2 separate regions of the Homo sapiens genome follow, and region 2 is linked to region 1. The links come from fine-mapping of genetic effects on gene expression. A gene starts in region 1. The other region holds a variant in brackets. All regions are shown on one strand. Distances are between the middles of the regions. Region 1 holds the start of INTS6-AS1 (INTS6 antisense RNA 1). Region 2 overlaps INTS6 (integrator complex subunit 6).

What was found. PIP is the estimated chance that this variant, and not a neighbour inherited with it, causes the effect.
Region 2: its variant is fine-mapped to the expression of INTS6-AS1 in whole blood (INTERVAL, PIP above 0.99). The same link has a PIP of 0.9 or more in lymphoblastoid cells.

The regions. Positions count from the first base shown.
Region 1 is chr13:51,452,104-51,455,008 of GRCh38, forward strand. It overlaps INTS6-AS1 (INTS6 antisense RNA 1), which reads left to right and starts at 1,242. Exons shown (of 2, transcript NR_103812.1): 1 at 1,242-1,315; 2 at 1,900-2,613. INTS6 (integrator complex subunit 6) reads right to left here and starts at 933. Exons shown (of 18, transcript NM_012141.3): 1 at 312-933. The coding sequence starts at 422. RefSeq lists silencers at 1-78, 89-358, 599-858, 1,089-1,288, 1,379-1,698 and an enhancer at 919-968.
Region 2 is chr13:51,369,579-51,372,483 of GRCh38, forward strand. All of the region lies in intron 15 of INTS6 (integrator complex subunit 6), which reads right to left. Among named protein-coding and RNA genes, the nearest start is that of MIR5693, 22 kb to the left of the region's middle. RefSeq lists an enhancer at 1,103-1,602. The variant T/C (reference allele first, on the strand shown) is at 1,347.

The DNA of each region.
Region 1 (2,905 bases):
CGAGGTTACGAGGCGGAGAAGGGGCGCCCAGCGGCCCCGCCGCCCCCACAGTACCGCACACGCAGCGGCCACCCCTCCACGCCGTCCCCCACACACAGATCGCTCCCCACACACCGCCCGGGGCCGGAGCCCGGGCCCCGGCCGAACCCGGCTCGCAGCGCCCGCCCGCCCGCGCGGTGGGGGAGGGGGTCCCCGAGCCCGGCAGCTCCCGCAGTCAGGTCCCCGACACCCCCGCCCCGGCCGCCCTCCCCCACCCTGCCGCCCGCGGGCCGCCGGGCCGGGGTCGCCGCCCGGGCTCGGTCAGTCGGTACCTTCATGAAGGTCTCTACCGCGCCTTTGGCCGTGTCCAGGTAGGTGGTGCCCAGATGGCTGCGCTGGTTCATAGAGGCAGACGTGTCTATCAGGAACAGTAAGATGGGCATAGTGCTGGCCGGGGACACCGGGGCCCGAGGTGGTGGAGAAAGAGGAGATGGTAGAGGTGGAGGCGCCGGTGGCGGCGACCGCCGCTACGCGGGGCGGGGGAGCACGGCCCCCGGGAGGAAAACACTGTCTGGGTCTTTCCTCCGGCTGCGGGGAGTTTCTCCCCCGATAGTTGAGAGGAAACTCCCCAGACCCAGTGCTCCCCGTCGTACCCCCGCCTCCGCCTCCTCCTGCCTGCCTGCCCGCTGGGGCGGGCGCCCAGCCGTCTGTCTGTCGGTTCGTCCCCCCCGCCTCGGGGGTCCCGTCCCCGCTCCCGGCCCCTGTGTGTGTCCCAGCGGGAGACGGGCCTGGCTCCCCACCCCACCCCCGGTACAGGAGTGGGGACCTGGGAGCTGGCGAAGAGGGGAGTGGGCTGAGGGAAGATTGGCCCTGGGGCTGTTGGGAGAAGTTTCAGGGACTCCCTCCGCACCCCGGCGGTGTCACCACTTTCTCAGCCCCTCTCGCTACTGAAGCGCTTTTCTCTCTCACACTCCGGTTTTAACTCGGGCAGGGGCTGCGGAGGCTCCGCCCCTGACACGTCCCCGAGCCACGTGATACACCGCCTCGCCGTTCTACTGGTCAGGCCCTATCCTTTCATTAGCATATTTAAACAGCTCAGGGGCGGGGGAAGCTTGTAGGCCGGCTCCGGGGACAGTTATTGAGCACGCGCAGAGGCGGGGCGTCGGGTGCGCGCGAGCGGGCGGGCGGGCCGACCCGGAGGCGGGCTTCGGGAAGGGGCGGGGCCGGACTGCGGAAGGACCGCGAGGTGGGGGCGGGGGCCGCGTCCGCGCGCGCGGGGCGGCCGCGGCGGTGAGCCTGCGCGTCAGGGCCGCCGGCCTCTCCTTGGCTGTTGGAGGTGATAGGGGTCGAGGGGAGGGAAAAAGGGGCTGGCGTCAGCCGCCCCTGTGAGGTGGCCGTAGCGTGGACGAGTAAGAAGGGTTGAGTAAAGTGGACAAACACCTGGTTAGGAGAAGAGGGCAGGCCCGCAGCCGCCCTCCGGAGGAGGACTCGGGGCCTCGCGGGCGCCGGAGGAGGTTCCTGGGCCTCGGAGGGCCGCCCCGGCGCGCCGCCCCGGCGCGAGCGGGCGCGGGCGGGGGAGGGGAAGTGAGAGGTTGTTTATGACCGGGGACTAATCTCCTCCGCGAGTCCCAGCGCTCCCTCTGGGGAGTGCGGTTGAGGGGCTGTCCTCGCACGGAGCCTCGCTCGGCCTCGGGGGAGCCACGAGAGGTGGGAGTTGGACCCGCAGCGGGCCAGGAGCCCTGTCATTGGAGGACCCGCCAAAAAGGAAGCAAACCCTCTTTTTCTTTATCCAACCCCAAATAGCTAGGGCCTAGGGGGAAGACTCACATATCGATAAATGGTTTGTTGCCCGTTTTATTCTCTGGGAAATACAACTGATCTTACCAAAGAAATAACCTGTCTCTTGCCGTGTTTACTTAGAGCCATAGAATACCTGTTTCAGAGCTGAAGGGGACCTGAGCCCATGATAATCCATTACCTCGTGAGAAAGCGGAAAAACTGACTTCAGCTTGCCCAGATGGCGCAGAGAATGGGTTTCCCGTAACCCCGCCTGTGTCTTTCCTTCAGCCTCGTCCCAAATGCCGTGGGAGGGAAGGCACTCTCTGTCAAGCTGCTGTCACCTTACCTGAAGTAAGGAGTCCACGCCTGCATGTCCGAGGAAAACAGTTTTCTCAAACACATTAGTTGAAAAACTGAAGACGCTGCCTAAAATACAAGCTGAGTTAGAGACAGCCCTTGTAAGACTAGGTAGGTATTTACAGGGCCTCTCCCACTAGCTTTGTTTTTCCAGAGTTTGTTCTTTATCCGGAAATTCTTAATTTGCCTACTGATCATTTAAAGAAAGGGTTCTATTAACATTGACACAGAAGAGACACTTTGTGGCACTTTTTAAAAATCTGAGTCTCGTGACTTGGTATAACTTCTGAAACTTACTGTTAATTTATAGCAGAGCTATTTGAGTAATATGCTCTTCTATGAGTATGAACAATAGAAGAAGTGTGATTTTTAAAGTGATTTGGACTACAAAATAAGAGCATGGAATATAGGCTTTACAGCCAGTACTTGCTGAGGATGTACTGTGTATTAGGTGTGGTGCATATAAAAAATAAATAAAATGTGGTCCCTGTCTTCAAAGAGCTTATGTTTTCTAGGAAAATGCTACATATTACTAGCTACTCCAAGGCAGAAAGTTGTTAGACACCAAATCAGAAAAAATAAAAATGTATTACCTTGGGGTGATGCAGGAACATTTTCCAAGGTTTCAGCTTTGCCTTAGTGTTTCTTAAACGGATCATAGATCTGAAGATAAGAATCAGAGTTCTATGGCAAAATACGAGTTATTTTACCAGTTATAAAGATGAAATTTGTCTTTCAACTTGATCATTTGCATAATTTTATACAATTGCTCTTTAGTTCTTTATATTTG
Region 2 (2,905 bases), 83 kb before region 1:
TTCTATAGCAATTTTATTGAAACAAGTAGGTTCTTGATACTTCAATGAAATATCTATGATCAAAATTATCACGGTCATCTATCTCTACCTTAGAGAGCCCTAACTCACACATATGCCTTATACATCTGGTATCATTTAGAGGCAAAAGTAAACACTGGGTAGTTTTTACTTTCCACTTATATTTCTGCCTTTAACTGTTCCAAATTCTGCAGGGAACATACCACCAAACAGGTAATGTTTTACAGTATACCTTCTAACTAGAGAATCTAGTCATCATTTATTTACCAGTGCAGAGCAACCTGGTGCCCACTTCAGCTTATTAGACTACTAAAACTGAAAGCTCGCAAGCCTTCCTCTTAACACCAGATTATTAGACTTGCCCCACAGAAAGCAGCTGAATTTTAAGTTCTCTGATTGCTCACCAACCTCCAGGATCCCAGCTGAATTCATCTCTACTGTCCTCATTTCCTGTCCAAACTATAAACTTAGTTTACCCATATTCCCCTATACACTCATCACAAATCCCCCAAATTCCTGACTCTCTCCTAAATTCGATTCCATGATTTGCAAACTCCTCTTTACTGAATATTCTCTACAACAACTTATGCTTTAACTGAAACCCAGCTCTCCTGTATGGAGACTGCTCTCCTTTCCAGACCAAAAGTAGAAATTGCTTTCTCTTGCACAATCTCCATAGGCATAAAAGGACATGGAGTCACTGATTCCTTCACTTCCTAGTGCTATTGCAAAATTACTCCCTTGCACTCTTGTGAGACTCAACCATGCCATTCACGCTGTCTCTCCTTATCACTATCTTAGGCCAATCTCCAGGGTACAAGCCTGTAAGCCACTGTTGTCTCTGGCACCCAGTTCATAGCCTTCCTTCTGTTGTGCTGAGCCCCTATCAACTCCAGTGGGGATGGCACCAAGTTCAAGAAGCCAAAGAAGAGACCCAGAGCCAGCAAACAAGACAAGGCGTTTTGTTGGGGGCTACATAAAGGGGAGCAAGCCCAGTGGTGGCAAGCTAGGCAGGAGAAGCACCTTACATACAGTCCAATGGTGGTGGGCTGGACAGGATAACTGCACGGCCCAGTGGCAGCAGGCTGGGCAGAAAAATGGCAACTGCTTGCAAAAAGTATACAGTTTATATCGTATTTTCACTTAGCACTCTTCCCCCTAACAACCTCCACCTGGCAACCTTCATTTAACCCAAAACAAAGGGCCTCAATCCCCTGTCTGGCCTGCATTCACTTCACAATGGGTTAGGGGCACAGATGTTCCTTATAGATAGGGAATGGATCTTTGGGTTAGCCACCCTATTCCCTAGCTCAGAACTCCCAACCGCA[T/C]GCAGGTGTTGTCTGCAAGCAGGGTCATTCTCAAGGTATGCTTCAGTTATTGCTATCAAGCACATCTGCCATGCACATTCCACCCCCAAAGCCCTTCTGACTTCATTCTTGGTTCTTACTACTACTCGAAGTCTGGTGTGTGGACAAGCAGCAGTACCACCAACAGAGAGCTTGCTAGAAATGCTCATCTGCCTCAGACTGAATAAATGAGAATCTGTAGTTTAACTAGACCTCCCAGGTGATTCACATGCATATTCAAGTCTGAGAAGTGCTGTGGTGACTTCAGTGTTTAAGCAGATCACCTGTTAAGAACCTGGCCTCCCCATTCCCCAGCTTCTCTCTAAAGAACTTACACTTACACCTTCGCCTTTCACATCCAGACAAATTCAGAGATGGAGGAGTATCATCTTCACAGTACTCCCGCTACTGCTCCTTAACTCAGCCAGACTTTGACTCTAGCAATTCCTCTACTTTCTTCCTCCTATTAACCATATCCCTTCTAAGTAGCCAATTCTGTATCAGGCTTATATCCCTGTAAGTAAAAGTGATATATCACTTTTACTAATGTCTGAATTTCTCTTATTCTACTGTCTTCCCATAACATCTGCCAAGCAAAATCCCATCTCTTGACTCACTATCTGCTTGCCCCAGACTTGCATTTGGAATCATGAGCGCTGCTGGAGAAATAGGGCCCAGCTCTACAGAGTGGTCACAATCACCATCTCTACTTGGATCCCAGGCACTGTCTAGCAACCTTATCACAATCTTTTCTCTCTCTCTCCCACAGAGATTGTTAAACTCCCTCACTCTCTTCAAACCTCTGACTTTCCCAATATCCCCTTCCGTCTCAGCAGTATACTTCACCTTCTACCTCACAGAGCTCGGAAGAAAAGCAAAGCCATGATTAAGGGACTTCCTTTACCTTCCTCTAACTAAATTGCACACACCCTCGCCCCACTTCCCCCACATTCAGTGTCAATGGAGGGAGCATTCTTTCATCTATGCTCTAGACCATTCCCTCTTGCGTTCTCAGTAATTTTGTGCTGAGTATGCCTTTTCTCATTTTTATTTTCAACCTCTCCCTCTTTACTGGTTCCACCACCAGCACTGAAACATGCTCAAGCATCTCTGATATTAAAAACAAAGAAAAATCACCATTTTCAAAACCCTGTGAACTCTTCCAGATACCATGCTCTTTTCCCATCTTCCTTTTACAACTAAACTTAACTGGTCGTTTATACTCATAGCCATTGTTTCCATTTTCTCACCTCTCACTCCTCCCATAACCCCTTGTTAGGCTCTGCCCCTTTACTCCACAGAAACTGCTCTTGCTAAGATCGCCAAAGACCACAGAATCTTTCCATTTCTCTTGATTGAACAGTTTTTTTTTTTTTTTTAAAGTATTTGGGACAACTACCCACTCAATTATCTTGCCCTTTAGCTTCCATGACATTAAATTCTCCCCTATTTTCTCCTAGCTCTAAAATTCTTCCTTCTCAATCTCCTTTTCTGCTTTCTCCTCTTAACTTTGGCACTTTCAAGGTTCTGTTCTGAGCGTT